2 separate regions of the Homo sapiens genome follow, and region 1 is linked to region 2. Evidence: fine-mapped expression QTL. A gene starts in region 2. The other region holds a variant in brackets. All regions are shown on one strand. Distances are between the middles of the regions. Region 1 overlaps VIPR1 (vasoactive intestinal peptide receptor 1). Region 2 holds the start of VIPR1 (vasoactive intestinal peptide receptor 1).

What was found. PIP is the estimated chance that this variant, and not a neighbour inherited with it, causes the effect.
Region 1: its variant is fine-mapped to the expression of VIPR1 in whole blood (TOPMed, PIP above 0.99).

The regions. Positions count from the first base shown.
Region 1 is chr3:42,523,254-42,531,575 of GRCh38, reverse strand. It overlaps VIPR1 (vasoactive intestinal peptide receptor 1), which reads right to left. Exons shown (of 13, transcript NM_004624.4): 4 at 5,583-5,689; 5 at 4,080-4,183; 6 at 3,453-3,585; 7 at 644-797; 8 at 45-105. It overlaps VIPR1-AS1 (VIPR1 antisense RNA 1), which reads left to right. Exons shown (of 3, transcript NR_046654.1): 3 at 618-680. Among named protein-coding and RNA genes, the nearest start is that of VIPR1-AS1, 5.2 kb to the left of the region's middle. RefSeq lists a silencer at 6,762-6,932. The variant G/C (reference allele first, on the strand shown) is at 4,368.
Region 2 is chr3:42,498,589-42,506,907 of GRCh38, reverse strand. VIPR1 (vasoactive intestinal peptide receptor 1) reads right to left here and starts at 4,265. Exons shown (of 13, transcript NM_004624.4): 1 at 4,095-4,265. The coding sequence starts at 4,172. RefSeq lists silencers at 4,007-4,506, 4,567-4,666 and an enhancer at 5,194-5,767.

The sequences.
Region 1 (8,322 bases), 25 kb before region 2:
CCCAAGTGATGGCGGCCGGGGGAGTGTGTGGGGCAGCAGCTCACCCATAATCCTCAAAATGGATCCTGGCGATGGTCCACACCATGGTGAATGTGCTGGGTACCCCTGTCAGGCCCAGGGAGAGTGAAAGAGCAGAGAGGGCACAGGAAGCAGGGGTAGAGGGCATGAGGGAGAGATTTTGGAGAAAAGCAGGGAGAGGGAGGGAGAGAGAAAAGGGTGGGTTGTCAGTCTGCTGTCTTTGGTTGCATAGGTTGTTCACCACGGAGGGATGCTCCACTGAGGGGGTGAAGCTGTATGCCTGAAGGGCTGTGTCTACCTAGACGGACATTCTCTTTCTAATTGTGACAGAGGCCCTTTATAGATTAGCAGTGGCCCTGTGTATTTCGGGAACTAAAGGGAAATGGAAAGATGTTCACAAAATCTGTCCCACAGGTCAGCCCTAGGTGCAGCTGCAACCTGAGGGACTTGTCCTGGGATCAGACATTTTGAGGACTTTCTTGACCCTTGGCTGATATCCTTGCAGGCAGGACCTGCAGCTAAGCAAGACGTAGGACTGCAAGCTGGGTTGGCACCCTCCCCCTAGGGAGTTCTCCAGGCCTTGCCCCCTCTGTCCCCAGCCTGGAAGCCCTCCCTGGTACCATACCCCAGCCGATGAGTATGTACCCCCAGAAGTACTTCCGCTCAGAGAAGAAGGAGACGGCAAGCAGGGTGTACAGGTAGAGGCCCTCCACCAGCAGCCAGAAGAAGTTAGCCATGACACAATATTGGAAAAAGACCATGGCTGCCTTACAGCCCACCTGCAGGGGGAGGAGAAAAGACGGGGTTCACTGGGGCTGTCAAGGGTCCTTGACTGCCCACACTCGTGTCTGGGGGGACAAACACAGTTGCAGTGCAGCCAACTTAATCTCTTTGTTGTTTTGCATTATCCCCTTAAAAATGTACTCATTGGTTTTCCCATTTTCCCTAATTTTAGATCCTCTGATACTTCGGGATAAACTGGTGATTTTAATTATCCATCCATCAATTCATCTATTCACCTTCCCATCTATATATCTACCCATCTGCCCATTCAATCATCTACCCACCTATCCATGTATCCATTTATTTACCCACTCACCCACTAGACATTCACTATCAACTCACTCATTTATCCATTTTTTATCCATGTGTCCATCCATCATCTATCATCTTCCCATCTATCAATCCATCCACCCACACACCTATCTCTCCATTCTTCTACCAACCCACTCAGTCATCTACCCATCCATTCATCTCTGCACCCACCCATCAATCCACTTGTGCATCCACCCACATATCTACCTACCTGCCCCTCTGCCTATCATCTGTCCAATCTTCCTTACTTAACCCATTTATCCTGCTGCCTACTTAGCCATCCACCAACCTGCCCATCCACACTCCCACCCCACCCACTCATTCATCTAATGCCAATTTGTATTGAAGGTAGCTGGAAGGTATGAGGGAGAATTCTTGCTTGAGTTTCAAGAGTCTGCTCAATGTGGGGGAGTGGAGGGCTGTGGACTGTGGAGTGGGGCCCAGATGGAAGTGTGGAGGGAGACTGGGACTGAGAAGAGGGTGGAAGAGGGGGAAGTAGAAATGAAGAAGAAGAGAAGAGGGGAGGGGTGGCCATTCCTCCTGGGGTTCAGAGGACCGAGTGGAAGAATGGGTTTCTTAGGCAGACGAGGACCATGAAGGAGTTAGGGAGACCCATGAGTAGAGCAATCACAGGGCTCTGGGTGGCCCACTTGGCATGACTGGAAGGTATTCTGGGCCTTCTGTCCCCTCCCAGAAAGTCCCCCATTTCAGATCAAGCCTAGATGTCTGTCAGCCAGGGCTTAAAGCCACCCTCCACCAGGAAACTGTCTGGCTTCCACTTCCCCCTGTACCCAAAACATTGGTTCCCACCCTTCCTTCCTGTACCCTTGGTTTGCGACATCCTCAGAGAGAAGCCTCCCCCTGCCCCCACCACTCCCTTTGGTTGGAAAGTCCTTCCTCAGGTCTCGCTTCAGTCCCTCCAGTTACAGGAGTTCTTGCCTCCCCATCTTCCTCCCATTTGCTTTTGGAGAATAACTCTTTTTTTTTTTTTTTTTTTTGAGATGGAGTCTTGCTCTGTCACCTAGGCTGGAGTGCAATGGCATGATCTCGGCTCATTGCAACCTCTGCCTCCTTGGTTCAAACGATTATTCTGCCTCAGCCTTCTGAGTAGCTGGGATTACAGGTGCTGACCACCACACTCAGCTAATTTTTTTTATTTTTGTATTTTTAGTAGAGACTGGGTTTCACCATGTTGGTCAGGCTGGTCTTGAACTCCTGACCTCATGATCCGCCCAACTCAGCCTCCAGAAGTGCTGGGATTACAGGCGTGAGCCATAATCCGCGTCTGGCCATAACTCAGCTCTTTACCAGGACAGTTATCTGTGCTTCTTCCTAGTCTTAGAAAAGCTTCGCAGTAATGAATTGGGAAGCCAGTCTCCATAATTATCCGTAACATGTGCACAGGAGGCAGCAGGTTCCTCCACAGGTCCTGTGGCTCACAATGCTCATGTCTGACTTGGCCTCACAGCTCCTGGGACAGAACCTCTGAGAAGCTCTGGGAATGGCCAAAGTGGGTCCCCTAGGTTTTCTCTCCCCCTTGTTGAAATGCCTGAGATTCCAGTATGATCATTTCACTCTTTGGGGAGAAGGTACTGCTGACCCCTGATATAATGCACTGCCTCTGGGGTCATGCATGAAGCAATGAGTTACTGACCACAAGGAATGAGTGGGGGCTGGGGCTGATCTCAAGCTCTCTGTCAAAGCTTGGGGCACTCAGAGAGGGTCCCTAAGAATCCCTTGGAGATGGCCCCCTTAGTGACTGGCAATGAATTCCTTAGATGATCCCTTTACCTCTCTTCCCTAGGAAGGCCCAGAACCAGCCTGCTGTCAGGATCAGAACAAAAGAGGAGGACTGCATATGTATGGACCCACTCCAGATGGCACGGGGACGGGGGGAGTAGGAAAAGTGGCATGGTGAGCAGAGCCCTGGCTATGCAGGTGGCAGATGGCAGAGTTGGAAGGAATCTTGGAATTCCTTGCACAGATGGGGAAACTGAGGCTGTAAGTTCCCCAAGGCCACATAGGAAGTTAGCAACAGGTGGGACAGGTGCTCTGGGCTGTGGCCATGAAGTGTCCCATTTCCCATCTGCTTTTCTCACTGGCGGCGGCAGGTCTGTGAGCACCCAGATGGGTGAGCAACATCTCCTGTTGCCGGAGGGGAGTGTGATTTGAGTACTGCCAGGTGGGGTTGGGTGGGGGTTAGGCTATCCTTGGATTGAGGGGTGGGGTGGGAGGGAAGAGGGAGGAGGGAGAGGGAGAAGCAGGGGGAGAAGAGGAGATTACAGTGGTTAAAGATAACGGCGAGACTGAGGGAGGTGGGCCAGGGCCAGGATCCTCACCGAGCCCTCGGAGCACTGGTCCGACTCCCCGCTGTCGAAGAGGGCCAAGTCTTTGATGAAGACAGCGGCAGCCCTCAGGATGAAGGATATGAAGAGGTGCATGTGGATGTAGTTCCGCGTGCAGTGGAGCTTCCTGTGTGGGGTGGGCAGATCTGGGAGGCCAAAGGGGCCTTGGATCCCCACCCCAGCCAATGCTGTCCTATGTGCTGAGCAAGGGTGGGGCAGGGGAGCATGTGTCCTCCAGAGGGCAGGCCCCGCCTCAAAGGGGATCCCATCCTGAAATACGAGCCCCACCCCCAGGTACCCCATCCACCTGTGCAACTGGGCTCCCAAGGGCCTCAACCTCGTGTGTGGCCCCAGAAGCCTCATTCCTGTGTGCAGGCCCCACTCTCTGGTGCCCTGTCCCCAGGTGCAGGGCCATCCTAGGGGAGACTAGGCTGCAACACATGGAAGAGCTCAGCCACCTGCCTTCTCCAGGGGAAGCTGGCCTGGCAGGAGCTGGGGAGTATGTGCTGCTGGGGGGCAACAGTGGAGGGGTCGGGGCACGCCTGGGCCACGCTGGGCTCCACTGTGGGAGGGACACTTGCCAGGTTTGCTTTGAGGCCTGTGACTTGGGCTGGGCCTCACCTGAACAGGCTCAGGATAGCTGTGGCGACCAGAAGGGTGGCGAGGGACAGGCCGTAGCCAATGGTGTAGCCGGTCTTCACAGAACCGTAGAACATGGTCTGCTGCTGTTGGAGGGACAGGGAGAGGCTCTTGGGTGGTGGGGTGGGAGGCTCATCTAGGGGGTATTGGCAGGGGTGGGGTGCCCTACACACTCTGCCTGCCCAACCCTGCCTCAGCAAATGAGGAGGCTGAGGTCTGGGGCTCCCAAGAGCAGCTGAGCCCCTGACCCCTAACGCCCTGGTTTCTACA[G/C]ACAGGGCAGGACTGTGTCTTAGGGTGGGGTGGGGGTTGAATGTACTTCCTGTCTTTGCTTCTTTACGAGGGACAAGTTGGTGAGGGAGAGAATGAAGACCTTGCACGTCCCTTTTGTTAATTTCATGTCTCCAGCCATGTGCCCGGCTTCCCTTCTGTGCCAGCTCTGAGCTGGGCACCCTAGGGGTGGGGTCTGCTTGCCCTTCAGACACCCCTCGAGGCCCTGTCTCTGTATAGGGAGGAGAGGTATGCGAGGTTGCGGGATGTCGAAGAAGACACTGGCACTAGTATGTCCCATTTTGGGCCCTTGGGAGTTGGGGTCGGTGGGATGAGGGCAGTCTGGCCTTTCCGGTGGAGGAGGGCAAAGCTAGGCCCCGAGGGTGTCTCGCTTGGTCCCCTCTCCTGATGCCCTCCCCATGGACACAGGTGCAGTGCAGCACGACAGCCACTAGGCAAGCCACTCCTTCCTGTCAGCCTCCCACGCTTGCCTGAGGAGAGGCAAGTGGTTAAGGGGGAATGAGGGCCTATAGCTCCAGTGGGCTTCAAAGGCCTCTGAAGAAATTGCTGTCCTCGGGGGTGGGTGGAGTGAAAGCCCGGTCTGAGAAGGGCGCCTGAGGGTGGGGCAGATGCCATCGCAGACAGACACACACACATGCATTTGCACCCCAAAGCAGTGAGGGGCTCCTAGCTGAGGACTCCAGCCTCCCCATCAATGTCCTTACCAGGCTCCCCAGTCTTTACAGAGACCATGTTTTAACTGCTCCGGGGAAGATATCTGTCCTGGGACTGAGAATGACAGGCTCTGTCCCTGTTCCTGACTGGCTATTTGGTAGCCAAGTCTGGTTCCTTCCAGGACCTGCAGCAACTCGGTTTCCCCTCTGGATGGGATGGGGTGCTGGTGTCTGCCTGCCCTGCCAACTCCCGGGCTGAAGTGAGGTTCCCATGAGGCAGTAGGGTGGCCCAGCCTGGGGGAGCTGCTTCAGCTTTTGCTGCTCTGGGGGCCCCTCCTGTGGGAAAGCCTCCTCCCATACCCTGTCAGGGGGAGCCAAGGGTTGGGACCCCAGAAAGGCAGGCCTGGAGGAGGCTAGAGGAGGGCAGACTCCAGGAGTCCTGTTCCCACACAGACAGCAACCACACCCCTCGGTGGGAGAGATCAAAGTCTCCTAGGTGGGCCCCGGCGCTCTGCAGGTGAGGTGGGGGTGCCCTGAGACCCACCTCATCCAAACTCGCTGCCTTGTCATCCAAACCACAGGCAATGGGGTACGGGCCAGGCTCCAGGTGCGTCCAGCCTTCGTCGGTGCAGCTGCGGCTTACATTGCGGCCTGGGTGGAGGGCAGGGGCAAGGACAAAGGCTGAGGCCGGGAGCATGGGGACCTGGCTGTCTCTGCTTGGAACAAGGCAGAGAATTCAGCCCTACTCCCACCAACCCTGGTGCTGTCAGGTTCCAGCTGCCCTGACCCAGTTACCCAGGGCACCGTGGGGGCACCTGGGGCAGGGAGAAGCCTCTTCAGGGCTCCCGCACCGATGATAGAATCAGAGCAGACATTCTTGGGCTCAGCCCTTTTGTTATGGTCTGAACCTGACCCCAAGTACAACATACACTCTTATCCTTGTCACAGACCCTGCCTGGATCCTTGTCACAGAATGATTCCTGACCCTTGCCGTGAGCAGAATGCTGACCCTTGTCACAAGGCCACGGCTGGGGGAAGGGGCCCAGGCCTGCCCGGTCCTCCTCAGTCAGCCTGCCTGGGCCTGTGGGGCTGGGTTTCTTCTCACACCTGGAAGGGCTTAGATGTGCTGCTGGAGGGGGAGCAGGAGTGTGGGGGTGAGGAGGGGTGGGGTTGGGGAACCTGTGCAGGCAAAGGCATGTGAGGGGGAATCAGGCAGCACAGCATGGCAGGAGCTTGGGGCTGAAACAAGCAGAGGCTGAGGCTCCAGGCAAGCTGCACTGTCCACTGTCCTCAGAGGCTTGAAGCTGCAGCAAAGAGACAGGACCGCTTAGGGGGTATGTGAGGTGAGGGGTACCACTGAGGCTCCCCACTCTCCAGCACTGGGGAGGTGTCCTCTCCCCAGAGAGGGAGAGGATGGGTTGAATAGAAATTAGATGAGCCAGAGAAGAATCACGCTTCCCCATCTCAGTACCCGTTCATCACCACCACCACCACCGCCATAGTCACCATGAGCAGCATCAGCAGCATCACTGTTGTCAGCCTCATCACAATGACAGGTTTTGAGTACTTTTCAAATGTCAGTGCTGGTCAAGCACTTTAGGCACATCCTGTTTAATTTCCTCAATCATCCAGTGAGGAAGTTAACTCCATTTCACAGTTAAGAAGTGGAGGCCCCAAGAGGTTGGTTACTTGCCCAAGGCTACATAGAGAGGACAGGATAGAGCTGATTTGGTCTCCAGAGTCTTCCCAGGTAAGCTTGGTTCTCACCTGCATGGAGGTGACCTGAGGACTTATTTCGGTGACCAGATAAAGAGCTGCAGGAGGGTCAAGCTGTTCTATGAGCTCAGGAAGTGTCACTGGGCACGTGTGTTTATTTCCAAACTTTGCCGTATGCCCGGAATATACCAGGTGATTCCATATTCACCATTTCTGTAAATCCTCCTGGCAACCCTTGGAAAGAGGTCTTGTCACCCTACTTCATGGATGAAGAACTGAGGGACAGCTAGGGGTGGGGATGGGACAGCCAGGAAAGAGCAGCCGTGGGCTGGGTCTATTTCCACCGCATGGCCCAGGGAGGGCAGGATGGATTTGGTTGAGGAGGGGGCATTGGACTGGGCCAGTTTCCTGCCTTGGCATCCCTTTTTCTGCCCTGGGCTCCCAACCTCACTGTTGCAAGAGGCTCCTAGGACAGCAGAAAAGCCTTCAGCTGTCCTTCTGCGCCCCTCTCAGCTTCCCATCATTGCAGCCAGAGGTGGGCCTGGCCCAGAGCCTTCAGCCCAGCCCCTCATCAAAGGGTAGGCTCTTCCTCAGCCCCAGTTCCAGGGAGCTAACTGCAGGCTCTGAGGCCCTGGATCCCACCCACAATCTGATTCATTTGAGGACTTCCCCCTACAAGGCTCAGGCAGGTAGAAAACAGGGTTAAGGGCTGGGTGCGGTGGCTCATGCCTGTAATCCCAGCAGTTTGGTAGGCCAAGGCAGGCAGATCACGAGGTCAGAGTTCAAGATCAGCCTGGCCAACATAGTGAAACCCTGTCTTTACTAAAAATACAAAAATTATCTGGGAGTGGTGGCACACACCTGTAGTCCCAGCTACTCAGGAGGCTGAGGCAGGAGAATCGCTTGAACCCAGGAGGTGGAGGTTGCAGTGAGCCGAGATCACACCACTGCACTCCCACCTGGGTGACAGAGTAAAACTCCGACTCAGGGAAAAAAAAAAGAGGATTAAGGCCAAAATCACCCAGCCTTGAAGCTGGGACACTGGAGCTTTGGGCTCCCTACTCACCAGAGGGACCGGGGCTTGAGGAGGCCAGGCCCAATGACATGGCAAGCATCTGGTATCATGAATTATGCCAGCAAACCTGGGTGACTCTGGCATGTACACAGCAGCTTCACATGCCGTGTGTGTGTGTGTGTGTGTGTGTGTGTGTGTGTGTAGTGGCGGAGGTGTTAGGGTAAACATTAATGTGTTAGGGCTAGGAATTGGTAGTTTTTGTTATCCCATCAAAAAATGGGGATCCCAAGGCTAAGAGAGGTTAAGTCATTTGCCCATGGTCACACAGCAAGGGAGCAGCAGGTGGGATGCAGACCAAGGTCTGCCTGACTCCAGATCTTTCTGGGCTCCCAGCAGCGGCCAAAGGGATACTCTGTTTTCTGGAGCCCTGGCTGCCATAGATGGTGAAGGAGAGGAGGGGAGGGGACAATGGGTCATCTCTGGGGCCAGGTGGTCTCTTTGAAGAGCCCTGGGATTGTGGTCAAGGCCTCATAGCAAGCTGCTCTCAAGGATA
Region 2 (8,319 bases):
AAAAAGTAAAAATTTAAAACACTATACACGTGGTGGAGAGATTAAACTGTTTTTTTCTTCTTCAGAAATACTTCTAAGGGGCCAGGCGTGGTGACTCATGCTTGTAATTCCAAGCACTTTGGGAGGCTGAGGCAGGTGGATCACCTGAAGCCAGGAGTTCAAGAGCAGCCTGGCCAACATGGCGAAACCCTGTCTCTACTAAAAATACAAAATTTAGCCAGGCATGGTGGCGGGAGCCTGTAATCTCAGCTCCTAGGGAGGCTGAGCCAGAAGAATCGCTTAAACCTGGAAGCTGGAGGTTGCAGTGAGCCAAGATCACACCACCACACTCCAGCCTGGGTGACAGAGCAAGACTCCATCTCAAAAAGAAAAAAAAGAAAAAAAGGAAATACTTCTAAGTTATGTGAGAGAGTACATACTGACATTTTCAATGGGTACAATAAAAATCATTTTGTGTTAAGAAGTCAGAGAGGGGAAGGCAGAATCTGGGGGTTGAACAGAAGGATTTAAGAAAGGGACTAGGCTTTACATAGTCCCCAGGCCCCATTCCCTGCTCCATGGCCAAAGGAGCCACAGTGAAGGGCCCAGCAATGGCAGAGTTGTGGCACGTGGCAGGTTAGAGCCCCTACCCTGGTCTCATGGCCCATGTTGGATTTCCACTGAGGCTGCCCACGTTGTGAAGGCCCATCTGCTCTGAGAGGCCCCATTGCCTACCTAGGCCTGGAGCCTTACCCCCAAAATGTTTTGGCCACCTAATGAGGAAACGTCCCCCATTCCCCAGGACTCCTGCTGCCCTGGGAACCTGTGGGAAGATGGGGGCCAGAAATAGCTGTATAAGTTTGCACAGGGCTCCCAAGCTGGGGACGTAGGAGAAGGGATGACAGTCACACAGTTCACATAGCCACCTTCACAACCTTTACCTCCTTCAAAGCTCACAGAAGTCCTGCTTGAAAGACAAACCCCCTTTCACAGAGACCCTGGTGCTCCAGGGGTAGATTATGTCCCACTCAGGAGGCAGAGTTGGCTCCAGCCTAACCCTCTCCTCCCACTTCTCCTGCACACTGGGCGGAGGCCTCTCACCTTCCCTTTTGTGGTGAGGAACCCGAGGCCCTTCCACAAAAGTTAAAGATGTTCCCAAGGTCAAGCCATTGCCATGGAGTGGAGTGAGGACCAGCTCTCCTGTTTCCAGCCTGGGCTCCCCAAGGATGTCCCACAAACCTCAGAGAAGGCATAGTCTTAGTGCACCAGGACAGGAGGGTAGAAACTTCCAAAAGGGCTCGCTTTTCCAGCATGGTACCCTGGGAGCCCTGGCCAGGCCTAACTGAGGTGGTAACCTCACTTGAGGAGGAGGCCTGACCCAGATGCAGCCATGTTTCCCAAAGCTCACAGGGTGGCCTGCTGGGGGCCAAGAGGGCCTGGGCAGCTGTGGTCCGCCTCTGGAGAGGCTAGAGGCAGGTGGCAGGGGCAGCAGGATGCCGGTGGCAAGGCAAGGCCTTCAGGAGCTTGTGGCCACTGATCAACCTCAGAGTTGGGGAGAAGTCGAGCCTCTCCCAGTCCCTGGGACTCCTCCTTCTGGGGGCAGGCCCATTGGTCCTGTCAACAGAGGCTGTTTTATGGTTTAGGGTGAAAGATTGGCCCATCTGGTCAAACTCTTTAGGGCACAGTCCTGCTTCTTCCAGGAGCCTCCCCTGACTGTTCCTCTCAGCAACCCCTGCCCCAGTTCTAGGAGGCTGTACCCCACATCCACCTGGACTCTTTCTCCTAAGTCACTGGGTCTGGTCTCCCACACCAGATAGAGAATTTCCCACGAGGAGGCCTGTGACCCTCCTCCCCCAGCCTCGTACTGGGCATTGCCCTGAGCAGCTCTGCTTCTGGATGAGGAGTCCCTGTGCCTGCTGTCCGGGGGGCAGGGGCAGTGGAAGGCTTGACAGGTGGCCTTGGGGCAGACTTCCTCCTCTGAGACACTGGAGGTTTTCTTTCCTTTTTTTTTTTTTTTTTTTTTTTTGCCTCCCTTTTCAGAGATTTCTCCTTCCCAGGCTGAAGTCAGGGCACCATAAACAGGAGTGATAAGGCCTTGGGCCTTCAACTTGAACTTTGCAGCTGCCATTTTATGACTCTGATAACTCCTGTCACCCCGCCCCCCCACCCCGCCGTCACACCGAGTCCGGCTAGAGCAGGTTTGCCCCATTCCATGAGGGAGCGATTGGTAGCTGGTGGGGAGGAGGGAGAATCAGGGAGGGAAATAGGGACCCCTCACTCCAGCCTGCCCTCACCCAGTCCTGGTTGAGTCCCTTCTCCTCTCTCTGTGGACCCAGCCCCTGCACTGGGCTGTAAGAAACATGGGGATGTAAGAGACCCCAGCCCCTGACCTTATAGGATGGCCAGAATAGCCCAGCCTGGGAGGTGGGTAGGGCTGAAGGGTGGGGTTAGAGGGGGAAGGGTTGAGTTGGCTGGAGCAATCAGGGAAGGCTGTCTGGAGGAGGAGATAGAGTTGGGCACTAAACGAATAAGATGTGGAAAGACAGGGGGAGGGTAGGCATTGGAGGGAGGAGACAGATTTGGGCTGTCTCAGGAAGTGTGAAGTAGAAGTGGCCTGGTGTGAAAGGAGACCTCTCTGAATCCACTCTGCCCCTGGGCTCAGAAGCTTCTCGGGATGGAGGAATGGGGTGACAACAGTGGTCCCAAGATCCCCGGTTCATCCAAGAAGAGTTTGAGTGGCTTGAACCTGGGGTTGGGAGGGCCAGATGGTGGTTGGAGAGGCCTGAAGGCTTCATGCAAGTTGTGCCAGAGCTGTGGCCTCTGGGACAGAGCTTGGTAAGATTTTGAGTGCTCAGGAGGTGGGTCTCATGGCTGTCATGGGTGGAGGTGAGGCTCCTGCCAATTGTCAGAGGTCCGCTCCTAGGACAGGCAATGAGCTTCCCATTCCCAGGGTGCTCAAGACATCCGCTAGATGGAAACACAGAGATACCTGCTCTGGTGGAGGTGATGGTAAGGGAAGTGACCATGGGAGAGAATGAACTAGATAATCAAGATTCCTCACCCTCCCCCAGCCAACTTGGAGTGGGCATTTAAGGCCCTGCCTAAGCAGCAACTCTAGATTACTCAAAGTCTGGGGTAGGGAGAAAATCAACCTTTGTCTAGGTCTAACTGGTGGGAGACAGATGTGGCTCTTGTGTCTCTGGACCTCGCTTTGCCCATCTGTAAAATGGGCTTCAGTAGACTCAATGAGTGCTGAGGTCTCCCCTGTTCTAGAGTGAGATGATCCATGCATCTCCTGCCTCAATCAGCATCTGCCTCCCAGCCCAGGTAAGCCATCCACAGGAACACATATCACACCCACACATGGGGCACACGAGTACACATGTATCAAGGGCATACACATACCCACGTTGAGAGGAAGCAGAAGTGGGAGGAAGAGGGAGGCCACTGCTTGTTGGCATTGGCTCCCTGCTCAGCTCTCTCCATGTACAGGCCTGGCCCCTCCTGTTAACCACCACCCTTAGCCCCTCACTGCCCACCAGCTTCCACCTTGGGGTCTGGTACCTTTTTGCTTTGCTCAGTGGGAGGGCACACGGAGGGATGTGCCTGTCACTCACCTGATCCCAAGAACCCCTTCTCAAGTCCTGGGGCCCCCAGCACTGGTTCTGATGCTGACAGCCCACAGGCACCTCCAGACGGTCACAGCACACAAGAACGGCCCCTCACATCCTCCCTCTCACCTACGGTGTACCAAACCTTCCATCTCAATCGGCCGCAGTACCTGACTCTGCACCCACTGGCCGCCCCACCCCGCTGCGCACCCACAACCACGACAAGGAAGGCAAGTCTGGGGCCCACTCTTCCCCGCTGCCCCTCCACTGATGCTGTGCCTGCTCCGGGCTGCGCTGGGAGGGACTGGGCACGACCAATATCCCAGCCCTCGCGTCTAGGTTCGGTCTGGAGCGGTGGGAGGAGGCGAGTCGAGATGCTTGATGTCCCCTATTCCTCTTACACAGACACGCGCACAGACGGCCCGGCTCCCGCCATCCCCCACCTCCCCCGCCCTCCGCAACCCCCAGGCTGCCGGGACTCTGGGCGGCCGGGCGAACACTCACCGCCGGCCCAAGGGCCCAGGCGAGGGCGCCTGCCAGCACGCATAGCCAGCGGGCGGGCAGCGGACTTGGCGGGCGCATGGTCTGCCCTGAGCCCGCGGCGGGCGGCCCCGCGCGGGCAAAGAGCTGGCGGGCGGCGCACCAGGCGGGCGATGGCCGGGAGCCTGGCAGAGTGGCGCTGGCGCTGTGGCCCCAGAGCTAAGAGGCGCAGCTCAGGGCTGGGGGCGGGCCCCGGGGGCTCGTCTGACGGGCGGCGGATCTAGCCAATGGATGGGTGGAGGCGGGGCCGCCGCGCAGGTATGGGGCGGGGCTGGGGAGCCCCTGCCAGTGAGGAAGCTCTGCTCTCTCTTTGCCAATCCCACACCTTGGTCTTCCGTCGTGAGACATTTATAGGCCTTCGCCCCTCCGGGCTCATCACCCGGGAATCTCGAGACCCGAACACATTCCATCCTTCCATGCTTAGCTCACGACCTTCGCAAGCTCCCACCTCTGTATCCACCCTCAGCCCCATCCCAGGGCGCTCCTCATGTCTACCCTCGGAGCCACCTCCTCCAGGAGGCCTCCCCGCCAGCCTCCCCATTTCCCACCTGTGCGTCTCCGAGGGTTCGTGCGCGCAAATCCGATTACGAGACAGGAAGTGCCACTTATCTTCCCAGGCTGCGAGCTGGGGCCCAGCAAGTGTCCAGGCGCTGACAGAGATCGGGTTGTTTGATCAATTTTCAACAACCCCAATTCATCCTTCGCGCCGAAGAAGCCAGGCGAGAGGAAGCGAGGGCTCGAAAGAGGCCCGACTCTGGGTTCCTTGGTGTTCCCTGCTCCCGGGTGACCTGGTGGGGCGCGCTCAGCACCTGTTGGGTGCCCTGGCCCTTCAAGCCTCGGGAGACCTGCTCCAGGGAGGATGAGGTGTCCGCACCCTCGCGGGTCTCGTCCAGGGCACCTCCCCAGGGAGGCTGGGCTGAAGTGCCAGCGCCCTCGCGTGGGGAGCGAGGTCTGCTCCCAGCCCGCAGGCCGACTCCGCAGCTGACCTAAAACGATCCACAGACGTCGTCCTCCTCCTGCATTCCCTATTTTACAGCTGGGGATACTGGGGTCCAGAGAGGGGCCAGGACCCTGGCCGCCTGCCTTTGGTGCTGAGCTTCCAAGGGGCGGCTGCTCGGCCGCTGGGTGACACCGGGTCAGCCCCTTTTCTCGTTTATTCGTCCCTGGCATGGGGAGCGGGGTCACCAGCTCTGCGCCCTGGGAGCGCGTCTTCTTGTGGACCAAGCGCAGGTGGCTGCTAGCCCTCTTTCTACGGGCTCGAGCCTGCACAATCGAGGCTGGAGATGTGGTCGCGGCGGCAGGATAGAGTGGCTGGCGGAGCCGTGTGACAGAAGGAGAGGCGGAGTTCAGTGGAGAGGCGGAGAGGGCAGCGGGTCCCAGAGCCCTGAGCAGAATGTGCGGCTACCTGAAGGAGGTCCCGCGCTAGGCTTTGGCTGAACAGCAGGCGCGCAGGAGCTCCCTGAGGACCCACCAGGGCTTCCCTCCCTACAGAGAGGGAACGTTGGGATGCTGCCATGGGGTGGGCTTGAGGGGAGTGGGGGAAAGCCGGGAAGGGATGAGTGCCCTGGCCCTTTCTTCAGGGCGTACTTACACTTTCTTTCCACTCTCTCTTCTTTCTCTTCTTTCTTCCTCCCTTCCAGCATTCCATCCCCTGCACTTGCTCTTTTTCCCTTTCCTCCCTCTCCTCCTTCCCTTCATTAAAGGGAACCTCGCCACCATGGAGCCCCTCCCTCCTTTCTTCCATGCACATTTATTAATCTCTTTCTGTGTGCCAGGCCCTGTGCTGTGCACTGGGGGCACAGAGGTGGATGGGCAGCATCCCCTTGCCATGAGGGGAACTTGGGGAGCTACTGTACTCCCTGCAATTTCTACCTCCTTCCCGATATAATCAGTGAGGCTGGACACAGGCCTTTCCTTAGATTTGGGAGCTGTGGAGATGCCTCTGTCCTAGCCTTTCTTGGGTTTGTACTCGATCTCCCAATGGCGGGAGTGTTTGAATCATCCTCAGCCATCTCCTCAGCTATCCACACCCCTGACGGCTGCTGTTAGCTCAGAAATCAGGGGTCTTTGTCTCTCCTTATGACCCTGTGTACCCCGTCTCGGGTCTCAGTTCCCTGGCAGGACAGTGGAATTGTGTCTTTTTCCTGGGAAGTTACTTGTGCTGGCATGGTGTCCTAGGAGCCCTAGATGTGAAGAGCAAACCTGTGGGTTTGGGGTGTCATGAATCCTCAGCCCTCACTCCTCAACACATACATACACACACAGCACCTAGCCAGCTGCAGGATGCTGAAATCCTATCATTAATGTGTCATGCCCCCAGGGTTGTTGAAGTTCTCCTGCTCTCCTGGAGGACAAGGTTCTTGGACACTTGAGGGTATATGATGGGTGTGAGGATTGGAGAGGCAGACCTCACTTTGCCATGTGACCCACCAGTGAATGGCTGGTGGGCAGGGTGGGGAGGGAGGGAGAGGGACTGGCTACCAGTGGGGATGGGTTGCCTTCCCCTGGCTCTGGAGGGGGGCCCACACTACCCTTCCTCTCCTCTGTTGGAGGGCTGGATGGCCAGGTTGGAGGCAGTGAGTGGCTGGGAAGGCATCTGATGCCTTTGCAGGCCTTGCTCCCCGGAAGGGAGTAGGTGAATCAGAAATAATTGTTTCCTTGCAGATTCTTCGGAATAAACATCACTTCTTTGTTCTTTCAGAATTGTTCTCCTGGGGGATCCACCCTTCCTTACCTATCAAAGGGCACAAAACATATTCAGAAATGAAAAGAGCAGAAAGAAAATAGCAAAACCAAACAAAAACCTAAAAAATTCAACCAACATTAAATGTGACTGTGTTTCAACTAATTGCTCCCGAATGTCCTGTCCTGTGTTCTGAAGCACTGGGGGGAAGGGGGTCAACCGTGGGCCCACTCTTGGGGAGTCCTGTAGAATCTGCTGAGGAAGCCATCCTTTTGTGCACCCAGTTGATCTGGGAAGGCTTCTTGGAGGAAGAGGGATGTCAGAAGCAGAGGGGGGGCCGACGGACTACCTGAGGGAGTGGGAAGCCTGTGGTCCCAATCTCCCCACCCTGTCCAAAGCCTAAGCCCCTCTGGAGTCTGCCTTGCCTTCCCAGTCCAGGCTTGAGGAGGAGAGCCATAGTCGCCTCCTACTCTCTGTTCCCCCATGTCCTTCTTGCATGGATTCCTCCCTGGGGGGGTCTGTTCTGAAGTCTCCCCTCTGGGATCCCTAAAACCTGTCCCTAGTCTCTAGCACCATCTCATATCCCTTCTGGATGTCAGAATCACATGGGTGCCAAGGACACGGGAGGTGGCGGGAAAGAGAGAGAAGTGGAGTCACTTGCCATCCCCCGTGACAACAGGCATGGCACAAAGAGAATCTGCAGTTACTCATTCTGAGCCTGCCTGGCTTCCTGCCTGTCTCATCCATGCGCTGTGTGCCGCCCTCGCCTCCTCTCAGAATCGTGCACTCACTGCCTTCAAGGCTTCCAGCTCAGGGGCTCCATGGTGGTGAGGTTCTGTGGTGGAGTGGGAAGGGGGCTGGGGGGGCCACAGAGTGGCCTTGACCTGTACGCTGGAGGCCAGGCTAGGAGATGGTGAGGAAACCACCTGGCTGGGGGAGTCACTGCTCTAGGATTCCCCTGCCAGAGCCACCCACGTTGCTGTCTGGATGCAGGCAACATTTGCTTTCTCCGGGCTTCTGAGTTGAAGGGACCTACACTTTTGGTCTTTATCCATAGAGCGGGGCTGGTAGCTCTGGCAACATGGAGTGATCACCACCTCCCCAGGGTGCACCTTCTTTTGGGGCCAGTTCTTCCTGTGAGAAGATGCACCTTAACTCCAGGCTGTAATTTGGTGGAGGGCAGGAGAGGCCTGGGCAGGCATTTAAAGAAGAAATATTCCCTTCCTCCCTTCCATAACAGCATGCAGTGAATATCATTCATTCATCCTTCACGTCTCAACACCCGCACTCATCTGGGGATTGGGGACGTGACTGTGTCTTAGACATGGGCTGTCCTCTGCAGGGAAGCCTAGCACTGCTTGGGTGTGGGATTGTGGGGGATCTTCTGTTGGTGCTACACCTGCATCTAGGAAGAAAACCAAGTTCACGGGAGAGCAGGTGATGGAGAAAGAATCATCCTGACATAACAGATTTGGAAATGAAGCTCAAGGACAAGTTCTGAAATGG